Linked DNA regions of Homo sapiens. The protein of the gene in region 3 purifies or fractionates together with the protein of the main gene of each other region. This does not show direct contact. Each region holds a gene or a part of one and is shown on either strand. Other genes may lie near its edges.

Evidence for each region.
Region 1: the proteins of AAR2 (region 3) and NCDN purify together in Homo sapiens (affinity purification with mass spectrometry; 3 studies listed by BioGRID and IntAct, with this or other methods). This does not show direct contact.
Region 2: the proteins of AAR2 (region 3) and ECD purify together in Homo sapiens (affinity purification with mass spectrometry; 5 studies listed by BioGRID and IntAct, with this or other methods). This does not show direct contact.
Region 4: the proteins of AAR2 (region 3) and PTGES3 purify together in Homo sapiens (affinity purification with mass spectrometry; 3 studies listed by BioGRID and IntAct, with this or other methods). This does not show direct contact.

What each region holds. Positions count from the first base shown.
Region 1 is NC_000001.11:35,552,054-35,561,244, reverse strand, and holds the start of NCDN (neurochondrin), read right to left. Parts: upstream 3,447-9,191; 5' UTR 3,055-3,446; coding exon 3,022-3,054; intron 2,139-3,021; coding exon 1,998-2,138; intron 920-1,997; coding exon 1-919. Other genes in the region: KIAA0319L (dyslexia-associated protein KIAA0319-like protein), read left to right, coding at 6,754-6,895. UniProt on the Homo sapiens protein: Probably involved in signal transduction in the nervous system, via increasing cell surface localization of GRM5/mGluR5 and positively regulating its signaling. Required for the spatial learning process.
Region 2 is NC_000010.11:73,132,191-73,137,334, reverse strand, and holds the end of ECD (protein ecdysoneless homolog), read left to right. Parts: intron 1-416; coding exon 417-631; intron 632-2,521; coding exon 2,522-2,752; 3' UTR 2,753-3,667; downstream 3,668-5,144. UniProt on the Homo sapiens protein: Regulator of p53/TP53 stability and function. Inhibits MDM2-mediated degradation of p53/TP53 possibly by cooperating in part with TXNIP. May be involved transcriptional regulation. In vitro has intrinsic transactivation activity enhanced by EP300.
Region 3 is NC_000020.11:36,238,924-36,247,226, reverse strand, and holds part of AAR2 (protein AAR2 homolog), read right to left. Parts: intron 7,407-8,303; 5' UTR 7,359-7,406; coding exon 6,602-7,358; intron 2,531-6,601; coding exon 2,301-2,530; intron 1-2,300. UniProt on the Homo sapiens protein: Component of the U5 snRNP complex that is required for spliceosome assembly and for pre-mRNA splicing.
Region 4 is NC_000012.12:56,670,312-56,678,614, reverse strand, and holds part of PTGES3 (prostaglandin E synthase 3), read left to right. Parts: intron 1-5,549; coding exon 5,550-5,663; intron 5,664-5,805; coding exon 5,806-5,875; intron 5,876-6,767; coding exon 6,768-6,866; intron 6,867-8,250; coding exon 8,251-8,303. UniProt on the Homo sapiens protein: Cytosolic prostaglandin synthase that catalyzes the oxidoreduction of prostaglandin endoperoxide H2 (PGH2) to prostaglandin E2 (PGE2).

The DNA.
Region 1 (9,191 bases), on a different chromosome or scaffold from region 3:
CGAGCTGCACCTTCTGTGGCTCCTTAAGCAGTGACTGCTCACAGCGAGTGCATTCCTGGATCCCCAACTCCATGAGGGCATAGCAGGCGGTCACCACATCCTCTTTCACCTCCGTGCCCGTCTCCTCCAGTGCCAGCCGCACTTCCACGCACGCCAGATTCACCAGCAGGGCCAGGAACTTGCTCCCGGAGCTGCCCGCCGGGATCCAGTCGGAGCCGCAGGCGTGTGCCAGGCGGGCTGCCAGCTTCAGTGCAGGGTTGCGCTGCCAGGAGCTCAGCTTGCTTCCCAGGATGCGTGCCAGCCCGGCCTGCAGATCCCGGTAGCATTCAGGGGGCACGGTTGTCGGGGGCAAAAAGAGGGGCAGCAGCTGGCAGAGCTCAAACTTGCTGGCATCCTCAGCTTTCTGGAAATCCTCACTGAGGCCCCGCAACACGGCCAGCAGGTCGGGCTCCGCCTCCTTCCAGCACTGTGTCTCGGCAGCAGCCAGCAGCCCCACCAGGAGTGCCAGGGCCTGGTCAAAGCCATAGCCGTGCCCCAGGTATGCCTGGCATAGGGCAGACACGGTGCCACCAGCAATGAGGTGCCGAGGCCCTCTGGGTGTGCCTGCTACAGCCGTCAGGCACTGGTAGGTGTCATCAATCATGGAGCGGCGGGCAGCATCGTCCGGGTCCCCCCGGGCTGTGAGGAAGGTGCTAAGAATGGGAATCTTGTTCAGGACTTGGGGATGGGCGGCCAGTTCAGGGTCACTGCAGAAGCAGGCCAGCAGGGCCACACCCAAAGCCCGCAGAACATGGTCAGGGCAGCCATCCGGCGCCTCCTTGGTGGTCAGGAGACGATTGGGGAAGGTGAAGCCGACAGCATCGAAGATCCGCCGCCGAGTTTTGGCATCTATGTCACCTGCTTTGACTGCCTTGGTCACCTATAGGGGGTATGTGCTATCATCAGGATGAAAGGAAGAAGTGGGAAAGACTGTCCCTCTCCTGCATCCTGGGGCACTGAGGACTAGCAAGATGAGGTTATGCAACAGGACTCATCTGAGGTCATTTCATCCAGCTCCTTTTTTCTCCTTAGAGGCAGATAAATGTGACCTCTGGGATCCCTCTCATCTGTGACTGTCCCATGGAAGTGAGGTCTAGTCTTCCTCAACCATTCATTTGAGCATTTCAACACCTGGCCAGTTGAGAAGTTCTTCCTGATGTCTAAATGCCCACAACCTGGGATGGAAGGGGCTTAGAACTCAATGTTTTAAGATCTCCCAAGGATTTAAAGTCCTTCCTTAATTGCTCCCTCCAGAGAAGTCCCTGATCCATTTCTGCCACCTTCTCAGGGGAAATGGCTCCTGTGTCTCGCCGCTCCGCCTGTCAAAACATTTCCCCTTACATTTCACCTAAACACCTCCTCTGCTGCAGTGTGAGCCCTTGACTCCAGAGCCTTCTCCTTGTTGCCATGGCAAACAAGCAGCGGCTGTACTCCCTCCTCCCTTCACCCCCCACACACAACCCCCCCTTCCTAGCACTGCAGCTTCTGCTCTGCTGTCCCCAGCTTGGGTTCCTCCAAAAAGGCTAAGCCCCAAACTAGCTCCCATTCCTTAACCTACCTACTGCCATCCTGGCCTTCCCCTAGGACCCCTCCCCAGCCACTTCCAGCCCTGCTACTCTCTCCAGGCCCAGAACAACCATCCCCAGCCCTCAAGTACTCTGCACTAGTTACTACCTGCTGCTGTTACCCTATGAGTCAGCTTCCATCTGCTCTGGGACGCCCCAGAAAACAGACCCAGGCAGCCCCTAGTGCCACAGCCTTATTCAGTCCCATTCTCCTCTTTGCCCCCATTCTCAGGGGGAGCAAAAAAGAGCACAAAGGTAGGGGTCTTGGGCCTTCGTTGGTGCCTCCAGGGTTGCTAGCACTACGTACATATCCTTGGGGACTCACTGACCCCATTCCTTGGGGGCCCAACCACCCAGCCCTTCCCACCTCCCAATTTTCAGCCAGTTCCTTACTAGCAGCAGGGCTGCAAACTGCTCGCTGTCATTCTTGGCCTCACGGAGGGCTCCCAGGTAGCGCTCCAGGGTGGGGTTTCGGCCCTCTGCCTGGTTCAGAGCTGGCTCGCAATCCGAGGCCATGATGCTCGCCTTGCCCAACTGTGAACACAAGAGGGACTGAGCATCCCTCTGCAGAGGAGGGACGGGGGTGGGGTGGGGGTGAGAGTGGAGGATGGAGGGAGGGAGGGATTAGCACAGAGGGAGGGGAGGAGAGAATCTGGAGGGGTGGACTCCTCAGGACTGACCTCCCCCCAGAAGCCCCTTTAAGGGGCTGGATCTGCAAATCCTTAGGGATAAAGAAGGGACCCTGGTCCAAGGTCACCTCCAGAAAGCGGGAAAGAAGGACCATGCATGCTGCTGCTCAGCCGGACAGCTCTCCTCACCAGTCTCCTGGGGGTGGGCGGGAGCTGGCCCCACTGCTCAGCTGTCCCCCTGGCACCGGAGGCTGGGTTTTATCTCCCTCCACAGGGACACAGAGGGAGTGAGTGGTGAGGACAGACAGGGAGAAATGGAGACATACATGGGTGAAGTTCGATTATCCGGACTCAGGCTGACATGGGAGAAAAGGACACCCCAGGCTTCCTTTCCCCTCCCTTCTTCAGAGGCAGAGATACGCTTCAGAAGTGAGAATACAAGACGCTCAACAGGGAAGGCTTGGAGGCCCCTTTGGGGACCCCACCCCTCCAGCCAGGGCTCTCAGTCGCCCCCGCAGGCTCCTTGCCTCCTCTCCTTTCCCTCCCTCGGGTAGAGGCTGCAGCAGCAGCAGCAGCGGCGGCGGCAGCAGCAGAATTAACCCCTTGCGCTCCCTCTTCTCGCCCTCCCCGTCCCGCTACCAGCCTGTGGATGCCGGCAGGGGCTGGAGAAGCAAGAGGGGGTCCCGGATAGTTCCCAGGACAACGGAGAATCCAAAAGCCGGATAATCGAAGCAGGGCTGCTGAGATGGGGAGATGAGAAGGGGAGGAGGGTTCCTGGCGGTCACCACCTGTCCCGCCGCAGCCAGGTCACAACACGACATTGATGAAGTCACGACAGGGCGGCGATGAGATCACACTTCACGATGGCGCGGTGATGTCACGGAGAGATCACGTCAAAATCACGACATGGGAGACAGCCCCCAAAGATGACAGGGCAAATTAAAAAAAAAAAAGATATATATTGAAAAGGGCTGTGACAAAATGGAGTCTCGACAGGGCACGATGGTGTCGCGATATGGCGCGATGGAGTCGCGATAGGGTCCCCGGGGTGTGTCGGCATCGATCAGCGCCGGCTCGGAGAGGCCCCGGCTGGGATGCAGGGGAGGGCCCGAAGGGGGCTGAGCTCACCAGGCTGCGGCCCCGAGCGGCGAAGTCTTCTCCCAGCGCGATGCTCCGGGAGCCTCGGGCCGCTGCTCACGCCGCGTTGCCCACTCCTGGCTCCAGGCTGCTGCAGCTCCACCCCCACCCCCGCACCGCTCTTGACGAATCCGCGGCTGCTTCACTCCGGGCTCTGGCCAATGGCAAGTCAGGGTGCTAAGCAGTAGGGGGTGCCGCCGTTGCCGCCATCTTGCTTGTGGGTATTGCCCGAGTCTGGGGGCTGGGGCTCGAGCGAAGGAGGCAAGGTGCAGACTGCCTCTGGAGAGCGGGCGGCGAGAGGCTGGGGGCCCAGATTCCTTCGCTTGTGCGTAGTTTTACCCGCCCAGCACTGCCCCTCCTCCCCCTTGGTCTCGCGGCCGGCATTGCCCTTCCCGGGGGAGGGGCGGGAGGGCTTGGTTAGCATGGAGAGTGTGTTTCCGGGTCGGTCCCGGGGAGGTGGGAGGAGGCGGTGTTTCCGGCCGCCGTCGCTGTCCAGGGAGGCTGAGGCGAGAGGTAGCTGTCCGGGTGGGGAGCCCGCACTACCTTCTTCCTCTTCCTCCTCCTCCTCCGGGTGAGGGGAGCGAAGGTTGGGGGTCCCCGAGCCCATGGACCAGGAGGAGGCGGAGGCCGCCGAGAGCCGGGGCCCCGCTATGTGGCCCTGAGCCCCGGTAGGTGGCCGGGGGCGGCTGGCTGCCAGGCCGAGGACCATGGGCTCAGGGGAGGGGCAAGCGGGACGGGCGATGTCAGCGGCTGCGCTGGCCGGATGTTGGGTCCGGAGGTGGCGCCCCTGGCTCGGCCAGGGCAGCCAGCTGCTTCTGTCCTTGCAGGTGCGCAGCTTGGGTCCCAGGCTGAACCCCGCTTCTCTCGGGCCTGGGCCTAGTCATGCAGCTCCCTCCATCCCCTGAGAGCCAGGCAGACAGCCGGGGTTCGGGGCGCTGCCGTCCTTCTTCCACCTTCGACCTCTGCAGCCTAGTCTTTAGTTGCTGTCTCTGATGTTTGGTCTCTCCACCGAGATAGAAAGTTGGTGCAGAATGAAGAGGGGATGGGGTTGAGCACGATGTGTCCATTATAATGTGAAACCTGCCTCATCCACGATTTTGAAAATTATGCCCCACAGAGGGTCCTGTAGTGGCTGCAGTGAGCACAAAGGTGAAATGAAGGAAGTCAAAATTGATAACCTCTGGCGGGATTCCAGGAACTCTTTGGCTTCTGGTCTCATAGTGGTTGTGTCCAACTGACAGTAGTTGCAGTTAGTGAAGAGCATTAGCTGACTCTCCTTGTGCTCTCTCCTGTGATTAACAGACTGAAAACTAGGAACAAATTGGAAAGACGACCTCCCAGAACAATCTGTTCATTTTTCCAGCTATTTGGAAAACAGTGTCTGCAAATATAAGCAAAGCTATTCATGGCAGTCTGTTCTGTAACTTTCCCAAATATCTGAGACTTTTTAAAAAAGAGCTTTATTCTCGATTACTCATACCAACTGAATAGATTGTTTCAGACGTGCTCCATCGTTGTTCAAACATATCTTATCGCTGTGTACATAAATGGAGTTCCACGTATGTAGTTGACAGACTGAACTGTGATACATCCCCCATCAACCTGAAGTATTAAGTAAACATTACCCCCTGCTCTGTCTGAACAGCTGCTGCAACAGAGAGTGCTTTTATTTTGGGTGTACTTGTAACGCCCTAAATGCCAGAACTATTGTGAGCTTCTCTAGATTTTCATTTGTCAAGTATTGTGGGGGTGTGTGTTCTCTCCCTGGGTTGTTACCCTTTGATTCAGTAACAAACTATTCGGATCTTGGTGATGTGTTGTTGTTCTTGCGTTTGGTCAGCAAGCCTTTAACTGGACCCTAGCAGTGATTTGTGCCCTTAGGCAATTATAGGTTTCAGAGGAATGACTGGTTAGGAGTTCAAATGAAATTAACTCTGCCTTTCTCTTAGACGCAAGATTTATTAGACATGGCACTTCTAATCAGCTTGTTAGTCCAGTGGTGTTTATTACTCCATTTTTCAAAAGCTATTCATTTCTTTTCTGCTTCTCCCACCCACCTGTCAGGCTATTGATGACAGCTGTTGAGTCACCTTGAGTTTTAAATCCTTTTGTGGTAGGCAGAAATGTGTTGGGTAAGATTCATACACACCCATACATGCACACATGCATACTCACTCGTTCCCTCTTGGGAGGCTAGAGAAATTGCTGGATGTACTTTCTAACTTAGGCTCCATTTCATAATCTCTTGAACATGTCTCTGGCCCACACACCTCCTTTCTGCCCCCTGCTCCCTGAAATACAACTACAAAACAACTAGAAATAGGAATGGATGGAAGTGAATGAGAACGATGAAGTCCTTCAGATGCATGTGGTTCTGCAAAAGCCTTTTCTTGGGTGGGCTGCACCTTAGTTTTGCAGCTGTGTGTATGTCTGTGGCTGTTTCTTGGTATTAGTCAGTATTGGTATCCAGCCCAGGCAATGCTGATCTCCCTGTATGCTGGCCGTGGATAGGAGTTAGGGGTTGGCAGCCTGTGTCGTTTGCTGGATGTAGATGACAGGTACATAGTTGGACAGAAGTTTTTGAATTGCTTCTTCAGAACTCAGTCAACCCTCATAATGTTGCCAATATTTACGTACTAATTTAGACAATATAGCAAAGTTTTATATGAGGGGAGAAATTTATGGTAAATGAGTTTTTCTGCTGGAAGAGACCTAAATAATCCAGCCCCTAGATTCTGGAGTAGCCAGCATAGTGCCTGACGTAAGTATCTGTTGAATGCAGGGATTGGGGTGGGTAGCATTGAGGTGTAAATTGAATAGATTTTCATGATAATAGTGGTGGGCGGAGACAGTAGCAGACTGGAGAGTGCATGCCCTGCCTAAAGACATTTGCATTCAGAAATTTAAAAAATACTGGGCCAGACATAACCCTCAGGTTACTTTACCTCTGAGGGTGCAACCTCTTCTCCTCAAAAGTAAGAAAGTGTGTTTGGTCAAAGTCACAAAGCTGTTAGTAGCAGAACTGCAACTAAAACTCAGAGATCTTCTTGTCTGCGGGCTGGTACTCTTTCCATTCTACCACATAGGTGATTTACTGTTAGATTAAAAAAAAAAAAAGGAATATAAAGTTTCAGTTTTCAGTGGATTCATTTGATATCCCTTGCTGTGTTGTTATTCTGATAATTATAGGCTACCTCAAAGCCCAGGTTTAAAATTTATAGGCAGGGTTGAGCCGTTAAAGACAAACTTGAAATTTTTCTTTCCCCTAATCTGTCATATTTTCTAGCATTCCACATTTCCAGGAATTAATTATTAATTACTCGGCATGTAATTTCTTCTCTTTCTGTCCTTCTAGTGTACTGGTTCTGCCTGTCTGGAGGGCCATGGAGAAGAGGCTGGGAGTCAAGCCAAATCCTGCTTCCTGGATTTTATCAGGATATTATTGGCAGACATCTGCGAAGTGGTTGAGAAGCCTGTACCTGTTTTATACTTGCTTTTGCTTCAGCGTTCTGTGGTTGTCAACAGGTACTATTTTCTTTATAGATTTAAGATTTTTTTTTTTAGAAAAGGGCATTTTATGTGAGTCCCTCAGTTCATTTTAAGGACTATTAGGAGGCAGAAAAAACAATCTGCTAATTGACAGAAATGGTCATCCTTTTGGTGACTGAGGTCTGTTGGGTTTATTTATTTGTTTTGTTTTGGAACCAGAGTTTAAATTGGATTCTTTTTCATAAGGGAGAATTGGCACAACCGTTTTAAGACTTGATAAAAGTCAACTGGGTATTTCCACTTAATGACTATAAAACCTTGAGCAAATTACCTATTATCTTTGAGGAAGGGTTATTATCTACCTCATGGTTTGATTTGAGGGATAGTATAATTAAAGCATGTAGCACAGCACTCAGCATGGGTGCTTAGTCTTGCTATTTGCCCAGGCTGGTCTTGAGCTTCCTTTCCTTTCCTAAAGGAATCTACACTTATGGGAAAAATGCGTTCCTTACTTTTTCCATAGAGAGGGGCTATGTTGATAGATTTTTTAGACTATGCTTTCCTCCTAGAGATTATTTCACCAGGGTAAAGCCTCTTGCCAGGAATCAGTGCCAAGAAGGCTAAATTTCAAAGGAGAATGCCCTTTCTTTCTTTCTTTCTTTCTTTCTTTCTTTCAAGTTCTTTTGTTGATATTGTGCTTTCATAGTATGAGTGTGAGAAAACAGCAATATGAGAAAGATTTCTGTGTATGCTGCCATTCTGGCCAGTGACCAAAAACCTTCTGCTGTAGAGACCACCATCTGGGATAACTAATCAGCCTTTTTCCCTTATAATTACAAAGATTTCTGTTGCTTTCCTAAAGGAATTGGTGGTCATGATTTTGAGACCCTAGTAATTATTGTATTTAGCAATTTCAGTAACATCAGCTTTGGGGTTTTTGTTGTCTTGCAGTGATGGTTGATGATTGCATAATTATAGCAGTGGAAGTTGTACTTGACAGAAAGCTGATCTACATGGTTTTTTTTTTTTTTTACCCCAGATGATGCTTTGCTGGGACAGCTGACTATTTCAGGTCAACATTTTATATAAGATCATTAGAATTAAATAAGTAATTGATTTAGCACCATCAGAATAGGGAAAAATCACTTCTTTAAAAAAAAGAGATGGGGTCTTGTCACCCAGGCTGGAGTGCGATGGTGCCATCATAGCTGCCTGCAGCCTCAAACTCCTGGGCTCAAGCTGTCCTCTTGCTTCAGCCTCCAGGCATGAGCTAGTATGCCTGGCTAATTTTTTTTTTTTTTAAGACAGTGTCACTCCATCATCTAGGCTGGAGTGCAGTGGCACAATCTCGGCTCACTGCAAACTCTGCCTCCCAGGTTCAAGCGATTGTCCTGCCGCAGCCTCCTGAGTAGCTGGAATTACAGGCGCACACCACCACACCCGGCTAATTTTTATATTTTATCCTTTTTATATTTTAGTAGAGGTAGAGTTTTGCCATGTTGGCCACACTGGTCTCAAACTCCTGACCTCAAGTGATCTGCATGCCTCGGCCTCCCAAAGTGCTGAGATTACAGATGTGAGCAACTACACCCGTCTGCCTGGCTAATTTGTACATTTTTTTAGGAGATGGGGTCTTGCTGTTTTGCCCAGGTTGGTCTCGAACTCCTGGCTTCAGTCGATCCTCCAACTTTGGCCTACTGAATAGCTGGGATTGCAGACACCAACCACCATGCCTGGTGTAAATCACATTTTTTGAAGCACACCTACCACATACCAGACTCCTAATTGTAAACATTACATACCTTATCTCATTTAATCTTCATGATAACCCAAAAATAGATAGTTTTCTTCTCATTTTATAGATAAGGAAATTGAGGCCTAGAGAGGCAGAATGACTTGGCCAAGGTCACACAGCAAGAACATGGTGGAGGTAGGATTCTAAATCCAGGTTTGTCCACTGTAGAGCTCATACTCTTTCTCTTCTGGTACTCTGCCTTCCAACCATAGGGGATGTTTTGGAGGACCAAAGGTTTTTTTTTTGAAACGGAGTCTCACTCTGTCACCAGGCTGGAGTGCAGTGGCGCAGTGCGATCTCTGCTCACTGCAACCTCCGTCTCCCAGGTTCAAGTGATTCTCCTGCGTCAGCCTCCCGAATAGGTGGGACTACAGGCGCATGCCACCACACCCAGCTAATTTTTGTATCTTTAGTAGAGACCAGGTTTCTCCATGTTGGCAGGATGGTCTCCATCTCTTGACCTCGTTATCTGCCCATCTTGGCCTCCCAAAGTGCTGGGATTACAGGCGTGAGCCACCATGCCTGGTGGCAATTTTT
Region 2 (5,144 bases), on a different chromosome or scaffold from region 3:
GCAGAGAGAAAGATTGGGATACCCGGAAACTGCTAAAAGATGCTTACCTCTGGGGAGAGAGTGAGATTGGAGACAATACTTGTATGGCTTGAATGTTTACATCAAAATGTATTCATTTATTAGGTATTTTTAAAAATTTTTTAAGAAAAATATTTTAATTAATTGAATTCACTTTTTTTTAAGCTAAATCTTTTGATTCAGCTTGTACGCTTTTCCACAACATTAAATGCACACATATCTGCCAGCATTACCATTTGTAGAAGGGATTTTTGTGAAGTAGACTGACTGTGTGTATTAGTCTTTTTCTGTGGGTAACATTCTAATTATTTTGAGATGTGTAGTAACTAAATAATAATAATAATAATAATAATAATAATAATTACTAAGTGGCTCTTTCTTTCTTGGGATCTGTGTAGGGCCAAGGCCTAATGAGTCAGATTCTGATGATCTGGATGATGAAGACTTTGAATGTTTAGATAGTGATGATGACTTGGACTTTGAAACACACGAACCTGGCGAAGAGGCTTCCCTGAAAGGAACACTTGATAATCTCAAGTCATACATGGCCCAGATGGACCAGGAACTAGCACACACCTGCATCAGCAAAAGTTTCACCACTAGGAACCAAGTGGTATGTGTGTTTTTAACCTCTTTCTCTTTCTGAGTCTAGTATGTCAGATAGCTAAAACCATATTTTATCATAGTTTTTCTTTTTTTGGTGTGTGAGATTTGAAATAAATAAGAATGTTAATTGTTTTCCTAACTCTGGTAGGATAAAGGATCATAGACTTAATTTTCCAAAACATAAGCTTCATTATATTACTTATTCTACGTTATCTATCAGGATTTAAAATAAAAAGTCATATAATATGCTCAAATTAGAATGCGATTGTACACTACTACTTCTTAAATACATTTTTTTTCAAAAGTAGTTTAAAAAAACTACAGCTTAAATGGATTTTAAAAAAGAGAGGGCACATGTTCTCAAGACCTTTTGAGACTATGCCTTGGGCCACAGTGGATTAAAACAAAATAACATAAGTAAATAAACAGGATCTTAAACATTCAAATAACTTTCCAGTTTTAACAGTTTATTTTGTATTTTTCCCTAATTTAGAGCCAAATTTAGGATTCACCTTCCGTTTATGTTTTCATCCTAGTTTTTAATGCCACCACTGTCTAATCCTAAACAGAGGTATTATGGAAAGAGCAAGAACCCTGGAGTCTTATGGGTTAGGGTTTGAAGTCTAGCTCAGCTGTCCACTGTGAATGTATCTATAAACCAGTAATCCTCATATCATAAAATTAACATGAGAACCAAATTAGACAGCAGTAAAACCTACAATAGGCCTTTAATTAATGTTAATTCTCCTTGCTTTGATCATCTAAACCACTTTTAAAACTATAGTCACTTCCAGAATTGTCAAAATCTAGTAGAAACCATACATTAGATTTATCTAAAGCAGTATTTCTTAAATTTTAATGCGAATATAAACCAAAAGATCATGTTACAACATAGATTCTGATTAAGTAGGCCTGGGATGAAGCTTGAGATTTTCCTTTTTTTTATTATTATTTTGTTTTATTTTATTATTATTATTATTATTTTATTTGAGATGGAAGTCTCCCTCTGTCACCCAGGCTGGAGTACAGTGGCACGATCTTGGCTCACTGCACCCTCTGCCTCCTGGGTTTAAGCAATTCTCCTGCCTCAGCCTCCCAAGTAGCTGGGACTACAGGTGCGCACCACCGTGCCTGGCTAATTTTTGTATATTTAGTAGAGACAGGGTTTCACCATGTTGGCCAGGCTAGTCTCTGGAGCTCCTGACCTCAAGTGATCCACCCACCTCAGCCTCCCAAAGTGCTGGGATTACAGGCATGAGCGACCACTCCCAGCTGAGTTTTTCCATTTCTAATAAGCCCCAAGCGATGGAGACTCTGCTGCTCCATGGACAATGCTTTGGGTAGCAAGGACATAAAAGTCTATCGAGCTGTAATCTTTCAAATCCTTTCCCCAGCTTGTGGAATCAGAGGCCCAACTAACAATTTAGAATCTTTGTGGTTGGAACCACAAAGCCTTGTGTTTTTACTTTTAAGCTTTTTCACTGGGGGGAAAGAAAGGAACACTCGCTTCTTTCATTTTGAAGAAAATTTACATTATTATTTCATTTAATATTCACTTTTATGTTTGTTTCTTTTAAGACTCTTAGACAAGTTATAAATGTACCTTCTTAATTCTATTAGCCCTTGAGCTATTTCAAAATAGACATGCAATTTATTCGATTTGCAGGAATCTTTCCTGGAGAGAAATGTGTTATAACCTTTAGAACCAAGTTTTATTATGTGTGCTAGGCCATATAACTTGTAGACTTCATTTTCAGTTTATATCACCAAGGATAAGAAGTTTCCTTTTTAATTTGGAATGCAAATTTACATTGTGGCTTAGTTATCTTTTTATTGTAACCACCATGCAACCTAATGATACATTAGCCCATAATTTTCTTTTCCCTCTATGAATAAGGAACCTGTATCCCAGACTACCGATAACAATTCAGATGAGGAAGATTCTGGTACGGGAGAATCTGTTATGGCACCAGTAGATGTAGACCTGAACCTGGTTTCAAATATATTGGAATCCTATAGCTCCCAAGCTGGACTGGCAGGACCTGCTTCCAATCTTTTACAAAGCATGGGAGTGCAGCTGCCTGACAACACCGATCACAGACCAACAAGTAAGCCAACAAAAAATTAACCAGCACATTTAGCTTCTCTTTTTTCTTTTTAAATAAATATTGAATATGATTCTGTTCATTTCTAGTTTAGATTACTCATTTAGTAAAAATGTTTCTTCATTACAAGTTTTACAGATTGACTTCTCCATGAGCCCCAAATGTGGCCCTCTTGGCACAAGTCTTTGTGATCTCAGCTGTGGGTTATACACAGGTTTTGAACTCGGCAGGGTAGAATCTAGCCCCTAGACAACCTTGAGATGAAATTCACACACTTCATGCTAAAGACATACCCTACCACAATATACCCTTGGAGTAATTCTAAATATTTAAATTTCTCCCTTACTGCTATTCATCCTCAGATCAAAATTTCAAGTTGACAAATTTGGATTTGAAAACTCATTCACTTTTTCAATTTTTTTAATGAGGCATAACATGCATATGGTTAAGTGCACAAATCTTAAGTGTACAGTCAGTGAATTTTTGCATGTATGTATGTACCTGAAGCAAGATATAGAACTTATTTACTTGTAAATAACAGCTATATTGATATGTCACATACCAAAAAATTTACCCTTTAAATTATACAATTCAGTGGTTTTTAGTATATTTACAAAATTGTGCAACCATCCCTACCATCTAATTCTAGAATATTAGAAACCCCATACTCACTAATAGTCTCTCATTCCCTTCTACTCCCAGCCCCTAGAAACCACTAGTCTACTTTCTGTCTCTATGGATTTGCCTATTTTGGATATTTCATACCTGATACTGTACTTAATTGTTTTAATTAATTAATTGGTTTGATATTTAATATAACTGATATATCTTTTGCTAAGATGAAATGTTTATTTCTTAAAATGATGCTCATATTCCTCCTAAAATAAATCAAGTATTATCTATATATCATAAAATTCACCATTAAAAGCAAAAAAAAAGTCTTCTTTACAGACAGCTCCATATACTGACCATGTTTTTATAATCTAGGTCTCTGGATTCTTCTTTATTATTGTATGCAGCAGAGAGATGCCTTTACTATATCTTACCCTATCCAAGTAAAAACAATGGAAATAGTTTCATACTGTTCCCTCTCCAGTGACCAAGGGAGGAATTAGGAGAATGGTGTAGTAGAGTTCTCATCTGAGAACTTACTATCACGAACTAATAAAAACTGAATATGGCCGGGCATGGTGGTGGGCGCCTATAATCCCAGCTACTTGGGAGGCTGAGGCAGGAGAATAGCTTGAACCCGGGAGCCGGAGGTTGCAGTGAGCCAAGATTGCGCCATTGCGCTCCAGCCTGAGCGACAAGAGCGAAACTCCGTCTCAAAAATAAATAAATAAAAACTAAATATACCATATCCCACTCCAATCCTTTGTCTTCCTAGTGTTCACTGAAATGAACTAAGGAAGAGGATAAGTGTTACACATTGACTAAAGTAACACATCAGATGATATTGTGCAACATTTTAACATTTTAAATAATAATTATTTTAAATATATTTTTATTGTTTGTTTTGAAGCTACATTTCTCATGTTAAAAATGGGGCCAGAATGCCGTCCCAGCTCAACTGTGAGAAAAAGGTTTCCCCCCATCGCACTTGTGGTACATTAGGTTTATCTTCATTGAGGATTAAATATTGGGTAGAGAAAGGGTGATAGGCAAAAATATAAATGAAATTTTTTTTTATTCTGGTTGCCACGGCTGACTGACTTTCAGCCAGGCTCACAAGATTTTACCTGTTTTTCTATTCTGCATCATGGACCCAGATGGGTTCTATTTATCCTTAGCACCTTCATAATTTATTGCCCATGTATATATTCTCAGGTCAGGTAGGTCCTGTACCAAAGTTTCTTTTATTTATCTGCCATTTTCAGTATTCCAGGCCTGCTCTCTTCTGCCTCAGCTTTCAGATATCCTTGGGGTTCTACAGCAAAGCTCTTTTCCCACTCACTACTGAGAAGCAAAGTTCAATGTTGCAGCTCCTGCTGTTAGCCACTCTCATCTTTTCTTTTCCAAAAACACATTAATCAAAAAACAAACAGTTACTCCATGGTAAGTTTGGGAAACTCATAACCAGGAATTCCGCACACTCCCCTTTCTATCAGTATTTTCAGATTGGGGATGTGTACACATGCGCTCACAAACACACCCACATAGAGATAGAAAAGATTGGGAGATGGTAATACACATGGACCCTGAACTGTTTTCTTCTAACTGCAAGATATGAAGAAATCTCAGGACCTCTCTTTTGTGAGTGCTTTTCCCTTCTGCATGCTGGGTTCAGCCCAGGTAAAGGCAAGCTGCCAATCTAACAAGACAATCAAGTCCCATCACATATTATCCCTCAACATTTCCTGATGAAGGCACTTTGATTTCCCCAAAGCAATGATGGTTTGCTGGCAGTGGAGAGAG
Region 3 (8,303 bases):
GCCTTCTAAAACACTTACTGCTACCTGCTTACTGCTATTTGGTTAGTTAACTTTCTGTTAACTTTCTCAAAATACAAGAGTCTGCTATCTGGAGTTACTTGGCTAGTTAACTTTCTGTTAACTTTCTCAAATTACAAGAGTCAAGACAATGACTCTGTCTTGCTCACAGCTATATTCCCAGTTCTAGAACAGAGTCTTCTATACAGCAGATGCTCAGCAATTACCTGCTAAATCAATGAACAAATCCCTTGAGGGCAGGAACCCTGGCTAACTCACATGTATATATATTCCTCAACACTTTCAGTAGAATGTTATATATGAAGAATGCTCAAAGACATGTGTTTTTTGTTTTGTTTTGTTTTGTTTTGGCACATGCCCTGGATTTTTCCAAATAATGACATCGAATTTTCTTGGTGAAAAGTTCAAAGACTGAATGTTTCCAACCATCAGCTTTGCACAACCCACCTGGGCATCTAGCAATCCAGCTGGGCACTTTCTGCTTTGTAAATCATTGCTGGCAACAAAGCCTGGCAATTATAGAGCTCAGCTGCTGGTTGTGCTAACAATGGTCTGGACAGCCAGCAACACCGTGGCCCTCCTGTGTCTGTGCGACGCATCAACGTGCATCAGGAGGGAAGCAGCCACTGCCAGAGGCAAGTTAGCAGGCTAATGCCTCCTCACACTGCCTCACAACCCATAACCAGTACCTTTGGGGAAAATTTTCCCCACAGAGGAAGGACAAAGGGGTTTAATTTCTCTGTTATATGAAGAACCAGTAAAAGGACAGTTTTATAGCTCTTCTGAGTGGAACAGACCAGGCTCAAATCATGCGCTTGACTGACTCATTGCCATGGTTTACACAGGTCCTTCAACTGCCAGCTTTAAGTCAGATGCCTGCTCACAGGGACTCATCCAACAGTAGGTTGGCTTTAGAAAAGCGTTCTGTACCTCTGAGAAACAGGACCTCGATGAAGTCTTCACTGATGTCAATCAAGAATCCTTTCTGGGGGATTCACACTGTGTTCACTACACAAGGGCATAAGCACAGGCAGGAAACCAAGACTCAGGCCTGGGTACAAATCCTGACCTCCACCTGCCAGCTGTATGACTTCAAGTAAGTGATTTAACCATTCTCAAGTGTTCCCATTTGTAAAATGGGAATAATACCCCCATCTTACAAGGCTCCAAAGGGATTCAATGAGTGAACAGGGTCTCACTCTGTTGCCCAGGCTGGAGTGCAGTGGCACGATCATAATCATTGCTCACTATAGCCTCAAACTCCTGGGCTAAGTGATCCTCCTGTCTCAGCCTCCCAAGTGGCTAGGACTACAGGTGCACATGACCATACCTGGCCAATTTTTTAATTTTTGGAGAGACGGGGTCTCACTATATTGCCCAAGCTGGTCTTTAATTCCTGGGCTCAAGTGATCCTCCTGCCTTCACCTCCCAAAGTGTTGGGATTACAGTCATGAACCACCACGCCCAGCCCCAATATTTAACGAATGCTCGTCCCTTCTGTTACCCCGAGTGGGATTGGAAGGTTGGTGAAAGGCTGCCTTATATGGAGCAGGCCTCATGGGGGTATTACACACAGGGAGAAGAAAGAAGCTCATGGGAGGGAAAGTATGGAAACTGACAGTGGCAGCTTCTGCCTCTTCTATTCTTGAGAAAGTTACACAATGTGAGTGACAGAGGCTGTCCCAAGTACATAAAGGACTAATCTGTTTGCAAAGGGAGGAAATAGCATAGGATGAAGATTGTAAGTTGTTTGAAGCTTCTTTCCTAATTACCACTCATAATGAAAATTTAATTGCCAAGTTAAAAGCAAATTTCACTTTTTCTGTCATAGAATCTCTGCAGAAACTGGCACATTTTGTTTGAACAGGAAATCAAAGTTATTTTAATGCTTAAATGAGATCTAAGGAGCTGCAGATGTTTCACTGGGAATAACAAACTTCAAAATTCTGCTTTACTGGGTTGTAGCAATTCATGGCTACAGGGAGAAAGAAACGCTGTTTTAAGCTGAGTAAACCAAAGCAGTGGGAGGAATTCAAATCCAAGTACCCCAGTGTTAGGCACTCTGGGGACGAGGTGTAGGGAGAGGGTGGTACAGAGAGAAAATTTCTGGCATAGAGGCACTTACAATTGAGTAAGAGAGAGAAAAGCAGGAAATATCCCAAGACTAGGAAACTGAAATTTAAAAATTTTGGGGTCATGGAAGAATAGCGAGAAACAAAACACATACTGTTGCCTCAATTCTGACCCACATGTGCATCAGCTCAGTCAGAAAGACTGCTCACCTGTAAGGTGCTGGTGAGGAAGTTGTCTTGGGAGACAATGTCTACGAAGAAGTCAGCGGGGATCTCACCAAGCTGGTGGTACAGGATGGAGATGAGGTTGATGTAGAGGGTGTGGTGCTTCATCATGGCTGCTTCTGACCGGCACAGGAGGTTCAGGAGCCGCTTCCAATGCTCAAATGCCTCGTACACATTCCCCAGCAGGAAGCACACAAAAGCAAACTGGAGTTCACCTGAAAGGTGCAGAGAGGAGAAGTGATTCTGAGGGAGAGGAGGACCAGCTGACACTCTCCATCACTATTCACAAGGCCATGAATTCCACTGGACCTCAGCAACAGATGAGCTTTTATCCTTGTCACTCCTGCAGAGCCTGGCAGGAGATTTTGCACCTAACAGGTACTCAATAGATGTCTGCTGAACCGCTATGAATTCAAGCCATGGGAAACCAACCTGTGGCTTTGGATTTCTATAAAATCAGACTGCTAGAGAAGAGGTATTCCCAGTATTTGCCTGGCATTTTAAGTTTACAAAATGTGTTCATGGATATTATGCCAAGTGGATTTCAAACCTGGCTGCCCATCAGAATCACTGAGAGTCTGTTAAAAGTAAAGCTACCCAAGCTTCACCCTCAGAGGTTCTGGTGGAGGAGAGATGATGGGGCCTTCGTATCTGTAGCTCTAACAAGCTCCCCAGGTGATTCTAATGTGGATGGTCTGCTCCAGGGTCAGGAAATACTGCACTATACCATGTAACCCTCAGCCCAACTCCACAAGGCGATCAGGAAGATGGTATTTGCCTCATTTCATAGATAAGGTCAAGGGCTTGCCCAAGGCCACACATCTAATGCTTCACAATGTGGGCAACGGAAAGATAAAACAGATTCTCCATTGGGTGGGAACAGTTCTGGAACCTCCCACAAAAGAAAAATTCATGAGTACTTATTCCAGGGTCAGCCTGCCAGGCAGATTATTTTTGTTTGCTTAACCACAGGGCTCTGTGATTTAATCTCTATGAGCAGCTTGGTGGCTAAGAGCATGGGCTCTGGAGCCAAACTGCCTAGCTTCAAATCTTAGCTCTGCCACTTAGCAGCTGTGTGACCTTGGGCAAGTTACTCAATCTATTAAGGCCTCAATTTCCTTATTTGAGGGTTGTAGCAAAGATTACATGAATGGATATAGTACATGTATAGCATTTAGAATAAGACCTGGCACAAAGTAGCACTCAAAAAATATTATGTTCCCAATTTCTATCAGATGCCCATCTCAAACAGAGACCTGATGATCCAGACACCACTGTCCCTGGGCAAGTAACTGGGTCTCTGGTTACCACAGAATACTGCTCCTCATCACAGGCATTCTCTCTACTTCAAAGGTGGCTGGAAATTTAATGAGGTATACATACATGTGGGCCATAAAAAGAAGAGATGTACTCAACACCAAATACCTCTTTAAATGCATGGCGTTTGATCTGTGCCACCTCCAGAGACCTGGAAAAACTAGCTCCCTGTTCCTAAGCATACGGAACTAAGTTTGATTTGTGTGAATAGCTACCTGGTTTAGAAATTTTGGATTTCTGACCAATATTTTCAAATATAGTCAAATTTTCTTTGTATAATATAGGTTAATGATTTGCTTCTTCAGCTGGCTTTACTTGGTTTGTGAAACTAAATATTAGCCTATTATTTGCGTTTAGGACATTTATTAAATTTGTGCATTTCTGACTTTATCTAAAATTAAATTATATTTTTCAAAGAGGTGTGATGTAGATTCAAAATTATCCCTGGACAGGTGCGGTGGCAGGGATAGTCCTAGCCCTTTGAGAGGTCAGTGGAGGAGGATTGCTTGAGTTCAGGAGTTTGAGACAAGCTTGGGCAACACAGGGAGACCCTATCTCAACCAAAAATAATTAGCTGGGCGTGGTGGCACACACCTGAAGTCCCACCTACTTGGGAGGCTGAGGTGGGAGGCTCAGTTGAGCCCAGGAGGTTGAGGCTGCAGTGAGTTGTGATCATGCCACTGTACTCCAGCCCATGTCACAGAGTGAGACCTTGTCTCAAAAAAAAAAAAAAAAAAAAACCAACAAAGTTATTCCTGTAACAGACCTTTTCGCAAGATATATTTTGAAGAATTGAAATGTTTAAGAGGTAGAAAGACAGGATTTCTATTCATTTTTAAGCCAGACTTTTAAAAGTTACTTATTATACGAAAATACTAATGCATTAAGATGTACCTGTTAAAGGCTGGGTGCGGTGGCTCACGCCTGTAATTCCAGCACTTTGGGAGGCTGAGGCAGGTGGATCATGAGGTCAGGAGATCGAGACCATCCTGGCCAACATGGTGAAACCCTGTCTCTACTAAAAATACAAAACAAAATTAGCCGGGCGTGGTGGCGGGCGCCTGTAGTCCCAGCTACTCAGGAGGCTGAGGCAGGAGAATGGCGTGAACCCGGGAGGCGGAGCTTGCAGTGAGCCGAACTCACACCACTGCACTCCAGCCTGGGCGACAGAGCAAGACTCCGTCTCAACAACAACAACAACAACAACAACAACAACAACAACAACAACAAAAGATGTACCTGTTAAAATATAGGTTATATCATTAGCTGAGCCAATGATATAAAAAGTCCTGTCTAGGCACAGTAATCCCAGCACTTTGGGAAGCCGAGGCAGAAGGATCACTTGGGCCCGAGAGGTTGAGGTGGCAGTAAGACATGATTGTGTGACTGACTGTACTCCACCCTGGGCGACACAGCGAAACCCTGTCTCAAAAAAAAAAAAAAAAAAAAAAGAAGTCCTACATTCAAATTTCTCACTGAACTTCCAACAAGAAAATATGCAAATTACCTGGAAAATTTATAAATATATATAAAAATAGCTGTTCAAAATGTGACACATATTTGCTGTCACTAGTATTTAAGAAATAAAGAAATATAAACAAGGTGCCATTTTTCAGCTATCCAATTGGAAGAGGCCTTTGTTAAACTGTCATGCCCAATGCTGTCAAAGGTGATGGGCAACAGGTTCCTACCAGCCAGCAAGGATGCAAAAACCTTCTCCTGGCAACATGCACAGTCTGACCCAGCAATTCTATCCCTAAATGTATGTGTAAGTACACACGAGAATGTTCACTAGATGATATATGTATATATATTTTTGAGACGGCTCTTGTTGCCCAGGCTGGAGTGCAATGGCGAGGTCTTGGTTCACTGCGACCTCTGCCTCCTGGGTTCAAGTGATTCTCCTGCCTCAGCCTCCAGAGTAGCTGGGACTACAGGTGCACACCACCCAGCTAATTTTGTATTTTTAGTACAGATGGGGTTTCACCATGTTGGCCAGGCTGGTCTCGAACTCCTAACCTCAGGTGATCCCCACCGGCCTCAGCCTCCCAAAGTGCTGGGATTACAGGTGTGAGTCACCACACCCGGCCACTTGATGATACAATAGAGAAAACAGGGAGCATCTCAATGGTCCATAACAGAGAACTGGTCCAATAACTATGGAACATGAAACAGCCACTAAAAAAGTGACTGTTAGTGACATGAAAAAACATTTATATTAAGGCAGATTACAAAGTAATAATATACTTCAATCCTGTTTTTATAAAAACTCATATATATACAGACACATATACTGAATTTTTAAGACTGAGAGGAAGTACATAGAAATAAACAGAGAAGACATTGAAATGAAATACATAGAAATACACAGAAAAAAAGGAACGTAAATATACCAAACTGTTTAAATGGTTATTTCTAAGTAGTGAGATTTGAAGTAAATTTTGTTTTTCTTTTATGATTATTATCTATCATTTTTGTAATAAAAGGGAAGGTAACAATAAAAACTGTAATGATTAAAAAAAAAATCACTGTCCTGTTCTAAGCCAGTTGAGAGACCAACATCTTGAGGGTCAGGAGCAAACTGAGCAGGCAGGTGAGAGGCTACAACGAACACAGGTCTGGCCCAGAAACCAAGAGTCCTGGGTTCTCGTCTCAGTTCAGCCACTCAGTGGGCCAAATCTTTTCCTTCTGTAGGACTGGGCTCTATCAGTGGTTCCCAAACAGAAGATTATCTGCACCAGGTTCACCTAGGATGTTTGTTTATTAGACAGATAGAAACTGCGGAAGCCCCACTCCAGATCTCTCAAATCGAAATCTCCAGGGCTAAGGGTAAAGACACACCTGTATCTTCAGCCTCCTAGCCAGGTTTAGTTGCTGCTGGACTAACACAAGATGTACTCCCTATTCCAAAACACCTCTGCTAATATCCTCCCCTTGGCCCACTCCCAAAGAGCCTTGTTCCTTCTCACCAAGCACATCCTGGGGGCTGCTGGGGAACTGCTTGTTGAGCACAGTCTCCAGGGCATAGCTCAGGTCCATGCTGTGCTTGGTTATCTCAGCTGGCGTGGCACCCTCTGGGAACATCTGCGTGGGCAGCTCTGAGAAGCGGATCTCTGTCCCGGCTCTGGGCTTCATCTCTGGTAGCCGGGCCAGGCCCTCTTGGTAGCTTTTGCACTCAATGCCACAGCGGGGTAGATTCTGCCCCACGCGGTCCTTGGTGTGCTTCATGGAGAGCACAGGTAGCACATCGGAAAAGGCACAGATCTGTCGATTCTCGGGCTGTAGCTTCTCCACTGTGGCTTCGCTGATGAAGTTGGTGAGTGAGATCCACTTCTTCAGGGTGGCATATGGGTAAGGCCCCAGGAACTGGTCCAGCTCCTGGAGGTTGGCCCTCATGGCCTCCACCTCAGACTCTGGGGCTGGGGACAGGTCTACCTCTTCCCTGAGTGTGCTCCAGCGCAGCACTGTCAGCCCCCGCTGGTGCAGGCTAAGGAAGAAACCCATACGAGGGCCTACTTCCTTCGGATTAGCCTTGTCCACAGAGCTGTAGTGGAGGAAGTGGATGCCTGGAGGGATCATCTTCACGCCCCGGAACTTGGGCCCGACCTCCCAGGAGTTATAGTCAATCCCAAACTCTGTTCCCTTGGGCATGTTCAGGATGACCACAGTGGCCCCTTCAAAGAAGAGGCGCTTGGCTAGCTCAGGATCCATCTGCACGGCAGCCATGGGGCCAGTGGTGGGTGACCAAAAGAACCCTTTTTCTTTGATGAACAGCTGAGAAAGAAAGAAACCAGAGTTAATCAGAACGTGGGGGAAAGATGCTTCATTTGCTAAGCATTCTGTATGTGCCAGATATTGAGTTAGACCCCTGACATAATTATTTCCCTTAATCCTCATGACAACCCTGCATTGAGTTTACAGATGAGAAAAACGAGGATTAAAGGAAAGGATTTTTGTGTTTTGGCTTAACATGCAAGGACACTCACTTCACAGCTATAAGATACCAGTGAAAGAAAAGTGACATGCTCATGGTCATACCAGGACCCAAATTAGAATCTGGATACCCTGCCTGCAGGCCAGTGTTCTGTCCACCGTCCATTCTTAATATCTTCTCAGATCTCTTTCTCACAACAGAGGGTGAGGGTGGAAAATGCCTGGACAGGTCACTCTAAACTATATGCCTACATCATTTAAAACTACAATTCTGCCAAAAAACTATCCCAAAAGATTTGGAAAGATTAAATCAAGTACATATCCAGTTTCCCATAAGCCTCAGGGAAGGCCCAGAAATGGACAGACGGTAGCAAGTGGAGGCTCAGCATCTAAAGTTTGTTCAGGGTCTAGAGAGCTTTCCTACCACAAATCTCCCCTCTTCTTTCACTCATAAAAAACCTAAACTCCAGGGAGTGAAACAACTTCCCAAAGAGCCCACAATCAGTGGTGGCTCTGGACCATTCATCCAGAATGAATTCAGGTGGTAAAGCTAGCCTAGGAAGAGAAAGCTGGCCAGAAGAGAAAGAGCTTAGTACACTTATTTTACCTACTTCTGAATATCCCAGACATTGCCTCTGGGATATCGGCAAGAATGGTACCAACATGAACAAATGTAAACAAACCATTATGCAACCTTCTAGTCCTAAGATACCTACCTGACTAATTTAACAAATACTC
Region 4 (8,303 bases), on a different chromosome or scaffold from region 3:
AGCACCCTTCACTATAAAAAATTGATGCACCAAAGAAGCTAGATGGAAACAGTTTGCTAGGAAAAGTGTCCCAGTTATTTTAATCCATTTGATAGTTTTACTATGTGCAATGCACATTTTATTATAAAAGACAAAACAGGCTGGGTATGGTGGCTCACTCCTGTAATTCCAGCACTTTGGGAGGCTGAGGCGGGTGGCTCACCTGAGGTCAGGAGTTCGAGACCAGCCTGGCCAACATGGTGAAAACCTGCCTCTACTAAAAAACAAAAATTAGCCAGGCTTGGTGGCGGGCGCCTGTAATCCCAGCTACTCAAGGGACTGAGGAAGGAGAACTGCTTGAACCCAGGAGGCAGAAGCTGCTGTGAGCCGAGATCACGCCACTGCACTCCAACCTGGGCGACAGAGCCAGACTCCATCTCAAAAATAATAAATAAATTAAAAATACCTATTTGTAATATGTGAGGAATGAGACATCAAAGTTCTGCTATGGAAAGGAAAAAAGTAGTTCCTGGAGTTCATAAATGGTTTTTCCTTCTTAGGTATCAAACACCTTGCCTATAAATGTCTGACACCAAGCTGTCTCCCACATACTCATTGCTCAGGGAAACCGTAAGATATTTGAGATCTTCTGTAATCAGCTGTAGTACTATAAAACTTTCTGAATAAACCTGCTAGTCCTGTGGCCTGTGGCTACCAAATCATGTGCCAAGATGTATCAGGGCCCCATGGAGGAACTCACAACTACCTTGGGATATTTTAAATTTCAGAGTAATTCAGTGATACTCAACATAAGCCAAGACACTAAGCAAACTATTAGTTTCAGGTTGTTCAGTTTCAATATGAGATTGTACTGCAAACCCCTCCATTAAGTTTCATCTTCTAAAAACTGAATTTCTGGTGGTTGCTATAACTCAAAAAAACACAGGTACCCACCCCACCAAAAAAAAATAATAATAATAATGGGGAACAAGGAGTGAGATGATAGAAGTCATTTCAAAGTTTGAGAAGTTATATAGTATCCAAAAGCCATACACATTCCATTGATAGGTATGGTTATATAAGAAACTATATATATTTTTCTTTCCAATAATGTAAATTCGTTTTTCCAATAGCTACTAGGCTGCTAAGACAATATAGTTATGTTGCTTGGATACAGCTATGTCATCAAAGCAACTGCTAGTTACTCCTTTTGGCTTAAGAGCACAACAAAACTCCTCAGACACCAAGGGCACTATATACCAGGAAGGCTTGTGAACCTCTGTCCTAGCGAGTTATTTTATGTGGTAGTTTCCACTCTAAGATACAAAGGTGAAAGCTGTTCAAGGTAATGTTTTATGGAAAATGTAGCACTTTTTTTTTTTTTTTTGGGTGGTGCGGAGAAGGAGTCTCACTCTGTCGCCCAGGCTAGAGTGCAGTGGCGCTATCTGGCTTACTGCAACCTCTGCCTTTCATGTTCAAGCAATTCTCCCGCCTCAGCCATCCTAGTAGCTGGGATCACAGGTGTGCACCACCATGCCCAGCTAATTTTTACATTTTTAGTAGAGACGGGATTTCACCACGGTGGTTGGCCAGGCTGGTCTTGAACTCCTGACATCAGGTGACCTGCTCACCTCAGCCTCCCAAAGTGCTGAGATTACTGCCATAAGCCACCGCACTTAGCCAGCACTATTTTTTTTTTTTTTTTTTTTTTTTTTGAGTCGGAATCTCACTCTCTCACCCAGGCTGCAGTGCAGTGGCACGATCTCAGCTCACTGCAACCTCCACCACCGGGTTCAAGGATTCTTGTGCTTCAGCCTCCCAAGTAGCTGGGACTATAGGAGCGCGCCACCATGCCTGTCTAATTTTTGTATTTTTAGTAGCGATGGGGTTTCACCATGTTGTCCAGGCTGACTTCAAGTGATTTACCTGCCTTGGCCTCCCAAAGTGCTGGGATTATAGGCATGAACCACCACGCATACCCACTTAGCACTTTTCTATCAAGCAACTCTTGTGGCTTTCCACATTCCGTCTTTTGAGCACTCTTTTTTTAAAAAAATTACTTTCTTGCTTTGGTTTTAGACCCTGAAGCATTCTTCTTTTAACATCCCCAGGAGATAAAAGAATTTTTCTTTGTTCAAGAAAGACTCAAGGTCAAATATCACTCTCTCACTGCCTCCATAACAAATTTTAGACTCTCAGGACTCCATTATCATGTTGTCAAGTATGCAGAAGCTAGTTTAGATTATATAATAAAACAAACTGGAAGTACAGAGACATGGTTAGTTACTTTGCAATAAAAGGACCGCTGGAGAAATTATTGTCCCTTTTTGTGAAGTGAAAAAAAATAAGCCTTCTGTCAGAAATGCTGGGTTCCAATCCTATTTTGGCTTTTTTTTTTTTTTTGGGGGGGGAGACACAGCCTCTCTCTGTTGCCCAGGCTGTAGTGCAGTGGCGTGATCTCGGCTTACCGCAACCTCCACCTCCACCTCCCCCTCCCCCTCCCCCTCCCAGCCTCCCAAATAGCTGGTATTACAGGCATACGCCACCTCGCCTGGCTAATTTTGTATTTTTAGTAGAGACGGGGTTTCTCCACGTTGGTCAGACTGGTCTCAAACTCCCAGCCCCAGGTGATCCATCAGCCTTGGCCTCACAAAGTGCTGGGATCATGGGCTTGAGTCACTGCGCCTGGTCTGCAGTTTTTGTGTTGTGTTTTGAGACGGAGTTTCACGCTGTTGTCCAGGCTGGAGTGCAATGGCGTGGTCTGGGCTCACTGCAACCTCCACCTCCTTATTTCAAGCGATTCTCCTGCTGCAGCATCCTGAGTAGCTGGGATTACAGGTGCCCATCACCACACCCAGCTAATTTTTTGTATTTTTAGTAGAGATGGGGTTTCATAATGTTTGCCAGGCTGGTCTCTGAACTCCTGACCTTAGGTGATGCACCCATCTCAGCCTCCCAAAGTGCTGGAGATTACAGGCGTGAGCCACCGCACTCGGCCCTGTTTGTAGTTTTAATGTGTTAGCCAACTTGTATAAAGGGTCAGCCAGTAAATATTCAGCTTTGCAGGCCACAAATATCTCTTATCTCATTCACATTTTTTTTTTTTTTTTTTTTGGTCTCATTCTGTTGCCTAGGCTAGAGTGCAGTAGTGTGATCTTGGCTCACTGCAACTTCCGCCTCCTGTGTTTTTTTAAAAATATACATTTAAAAAATGTAGGAATCATTTTTGGTTCATGGCCTAACCACAGGTTTTGATAATTTAAATTTGTTTTATCTGGGACATGATCATATAGCTTGCTAAGGCTTTTTTTCTTTTTCTTTTTCTTTTTCTTTTTTGAGACAGAGTCTTGCTCTGTCACCCAGACTAGAGTGCAGTGGCGTGATCTTGGCTCGCTGCAACCTCTACCTCCTGGGTTCAACTGATTGGCCTGGCTCAGTCTCCCAAATAGCTGGGACTACAGGTACGTGCCACCACGCCCAGCTAATTTTTGCAATTTTAGTAGAGACGGGGTTTTACTATATTGGCCAGGCTGGTCTCGAACTCCTGACCTCGTGATCCGCCTGCCTCTGCCTCCCAAAGTGCTGGGATTACAGGTGTGAACCAGCACTTTTTTTTTTTTTTTTTTTTTTTGAGACCGAGTTTCACTCTTGTTGCCCAGGCTGGAGTGCAATGGCCTGATCTCGGCTCACCGTAACCTCCACTTCCCAGGTTCAAGCGATTCTCCTGACTCAGCCTCCTGAGTAGCTGAGATTACAGGCATGCACCACCACGCCTGGCGAATTTTTTTTTTTTTTTTTTTTTTTTTTTTTGAGATGGAGTCTTGCTCTGTTGCCCAGGCTGGGGTGCGGTGGCCTGATCTCAGCTCACTGCAAGCTCCGCCTCCTGGGTTCATGCCATTCTCCTGTCTCAGCCTCCCGAGTAGCTGGGACTACAGGCGCCTACCACCATGCCTGGCTAATTTTTTGTATTTTTAGTAGAGACAGGGTTTCATCGTGTTAGCCAGGATGGTCTCAATCTCCTGACATTGTGATCCTCCTGCCTCGGCCTCCCAAAGTGCTGGGATTATGGGCGTGAGCCACTGTGCCCGCCTGAATTTTTTGTAATTTTAGCAGAGACGAGTTTCTCCGTGTTGGTCAGGCTGGTCTCGAATTCTCGACCTCAGGTGATCCACCTGCCTCGCCTCCCAAAGTGCTGGGATTACAGGCGTGAGCCACCGCGCCTGGCCTGCTAAGGCTTTCATAAGAAAGTATCACACACTGGGTGGCTTAAACAGCAGAAATTTATTTCTTCACATTTCCACGAGGCTGAAAATCCAAGGCGAAGGTGTCAGCAGGATTAGTTTCTTCTGAGGCCTTTCCTTGGTTTGCAGATAGCTATCTTCTTTCTTCCCTCTGTGCTAATCTCTTTATATAGGAGGACAACAGTCATTGGATTAGGGTCTATCCTAAGACCTCATATTTACTTGTCATTTAAAGACACTTTCTCCAAATACAATCCCATTCTTAAGATGTACTGGGGGTTAGGACTTCAATGTATTAATTTTGAGGAAACTGATAAAATTCTAGATTGCTGAATTTGAGGAAAGGAGATTGATTCTCCTGGTTTCAGTGAACTTAATGTAAAAAGTGAAGCTCTGATGTACCAGTGTTTTTTGTTGTTGTTGTTTGTTTTGAGACAGAGTCTCTGTTGCCCAGGCTGGATTGCAGTGGCATGATCTCAGCTCACCGCAGCCTCCACCTCCCGGGTTCAAGTGATTCTTGTGCCTCAGTCCCATCCCTCAAGTATCTGGGACTACAGGCCTGCATCACCATGCCCAGCTAATTTTTTTTTTTTTTTTTTTTTTTTGAGACAGTCTCGCTCTGTTGCCAGGCTGGAGTGCAATGGCGCAATCTCGGCTCATTGCAACCTCCGCCTCCCAGGTTCAAGCGATGCTCCTGCCTCAGCCTCCCAAGTAGCTGAGATTACAGGCGCCTGCCACTGTGCCTGGCTAATTTTTGTATTTTAGTAGAGATGGGGTTTCACCATGTTGGTCAGGCTGGTCTCGAACTCCTGAGCTTAGGTGATCCACCCACCTCAGCCTCCCAAAGTGCTGGGATTACAGGCGTGAGCCACCGTACCCTGCTTTTTTTTTTTTTTTTTTTTTTTTTTTCCGTATTTGTATTTGTAGTAGAGTCGGGGTTTCGCTGTGCTGGCCAGGCTGGTCTCTAGCTCTCCTGGCCTCAAGTGACCCACCTGCCTTGGCCTCCCAAAGTGCTGGGATTACAGGTGTGAGCCACTGCACCCAGCCAAGTAACATAATTTTTGATAGGACTAGATAAACGGCTAACTCTACTAAGCATTGTTTGGTTTTTAAATCTTTCCTATTATGAAATTGGAATCATTCTGAAACTAAATCTTGTTAGACCCATAGGTTTTAACTTGGAATGTAGCTGTTAGGGTAAAAATGTAGTTTTTGTTTAAAATTGTAACAAACTGCCCTGAAATAATGCTATAATGGTGTCGAAGGTTAGTATGTGAATGTTTAGTTAATGAATTCCAGCTTGACTTTCCCTACTTTATCCTTTTGTAGGCAGCCTGCTTCTGCAAAGTGGTACGATCGAAGGGACTATGTCTTCATTGAATTTTGTGTTGAAGACAGTAAGGATGTTAATGTAAATTTTGAAAAATCCAAACTTACATTCAGGTAAGTTAAGCTTTTTATCCAATGATGTAAAATAGTCATTCACACAACTGAATAACTTTGACTGGCTTGTCTTTTCATTGAAGTTATTATTAATCTTTGTCTCTTTGAAGAGGCTTAATTCTTTCTTTATTATTTTATACAGTTGTCTCGGAGGAAGTGATAATTTTAAGCATTTAAATGAAATTGATCTTTTTCACTGTATTGATCCAAATGTAAGTAGTCTTTATGCTTTAATCCAAATTTTAGTTGTGAGGAAACAGACATACCAAGTATTCTTTTTAGCAATGAGCATTAGTTCTGTTTTTCTTAACAGTGAGGCAAACTATGTATATTTACATTTTGTAGAATATTTCCTCCAAAATTGGTTTCTGCATACTTTTTGTTTTTGCTATCACTGTTTGGGCTTAGAGTAGTATCCTTGAGGCTCGTCTCATCTTTTTTATTTGTTTTGTTTTTTTGTTTGTTTGGTTTTGTTCTTTGAGACTGCTGCAGTACAATGGAGCGATCCCGGCTCACTGCAACCTCTGCCTCGTAGGTTCCAGGGATTCTCCTGCCTCAGCCTCTGGAGCAGCTGGGATTACAGGCACATGCCACCATGCCTGGCTAATTTTTGTGTTTTTAGTAAAGACCATGTTGGTCAGGCTGGTCTCAAACTCCTGACCTCAGGTGTTCCACCTGCCTCGGCCTCCCAAAGTGCTGGGATTACAGGCATGAGCCACTGCGCCCGGCCAAGGCTTCCCTTATCTAAGAATAGAATCTTTAAACCATTCTGTGGTTATATCATTTTTAGTTAAAGTTTTTAAGGTTTTATTCTGTTTATCGTGTGCAGGAAAGAAAAAAATGGTACCAGGTTAAACTTTAAACTTTATTGTTGTGCAGATTATTTCAGTAGGAAATAGAAGGGAAAAAAAAATTTTTTTTTAAATGAAACTTAAAGGGGGTTGGGGCAGTTGGATAGTTTGAAGTTTTTAGTAGTCAAGGGCATGTTTCAGAGTCCAGAGAAAATTTAGGTAAAGAAATGAGAAAGGTGAGAAATGACAAGCTATTTTCTATCATGTAGTGATGCTGGAAAGATAAATGGTATGATGGTCCTTTTGTTTTTAGGATTCCAAGCATAAAAGAACGGACAGATCAATTTTATGTTGTTTACGAAAAGGAGAATCTGGCCAGTCATGGCCAAGGTTAACAAAAGAAAGGGCAAAGGTAGGTTTCATTTTCCTTTTTTGAAAAGTTTGATATTTTTATTTTAGGTAATAAAAGATGTACTTATTTGATGTAAGGAATATGGCTGTGTTTTTGTTTCACAGCTAAGTATAAAGCCTCATGTTCATGTTTTTTGTCTACTCAGTTTTAATACGAAGTGTGATCAGAATATCAGTTATTAACTGGTGTAGAATCTTTTGTACTTAAGAGACAGACTTTGCATAAATTACTCAGCTATCACATGGGAGGGGACAAAGCTTGGTGAAAAAATAATCAACTGAAAATAGTTCTTACTAGTAAATTTGTTTTCAAAAGGTATGTTTAACAATTTTCAGTGTTTTTTTTCCCCCAAAACAGGGTCTCTCTTTGTCACCCAGGCTGGAGTGCAGTGGCACGATCTTGGCTCACTGCAGCCTCAGTTTCCCAGGCTCCAAGTGATCCTCCCTCCTCAGTCCCCCAAGTAGCTGGGACTGTAGGGGCATGCCACAACACCTGGCTAATTTTTGTATTTTTTGTAGAAAGGGGTATCACAGTGTTGCCCAGCTTGGTCTTGAACTTCTGGGCTCAAGCAGTCTCCCCACCTCAGCCTCCCAAAGTGCTGGGACTACAGGCATGAGCCACGACACCAGCCTAGTCTTTTTTTTTAGGTAGTCTCATGCCACTCATGCCAGAGTGCACTGGTGTGAACATGGCTCACTGTAGCCTCCACCTGGGCTTAAGCGATCCTCCCACCCACCTCACCTCTCCAAATAGCTAGGATTGTAGGAATGTGCCACCACGCCCAGGAAATTTGTTTTTTTGTTTTTTCCCCAGATACAGGATCCACTATTGCTCAGGCTGTCTCGAACTCCTGAAGGATTACACAACTAGTCTTTCCACCTTGGCCACCCAAAGTGTTGGGGTTACAGGTGTGAGCCACCTCATTTAGCTTAGTCTATTCTTTGTGTGCTAATTACATGCCCTCCTAAAAATACAAAGTCACAGTTCAAAAAATATTGTTTTGCCAGGCACCAGTAGCATGTGCCTGTTGTAGTTAAAAGCTACTCTGGAGGGTGAAGTGGGAGAAATACTTGCGCCCAAGTCTGGGTTGCATTGCCATATGTCAGGTAACCACGCTAAGTTAACATCAGTACGGTGTTGTCCCAGGAAGCGGGGACCACCAGGTTGCCTGAAGAGGGTAAACAAGACCCTTGGTCAGAAACGGAGCTGGTCAAAACTCACATATTGATCAATAGTGGGATTGCACCTGTGAATGCTTGCTGCACTCCAGCCTGGGCAACATAGCAAGACCTGGTCTCTTTAGAAGAAAAGAAAACGTAGTCTTAAGGTTCATGCCAAATGCAAATTAGCCTAATCTTAGGGTGATATTTGTATTGATTTATAGCTTAATTGGCTTAGTGTCGACTTCAATAATTGGAAAGACTGGGAAGATGATTC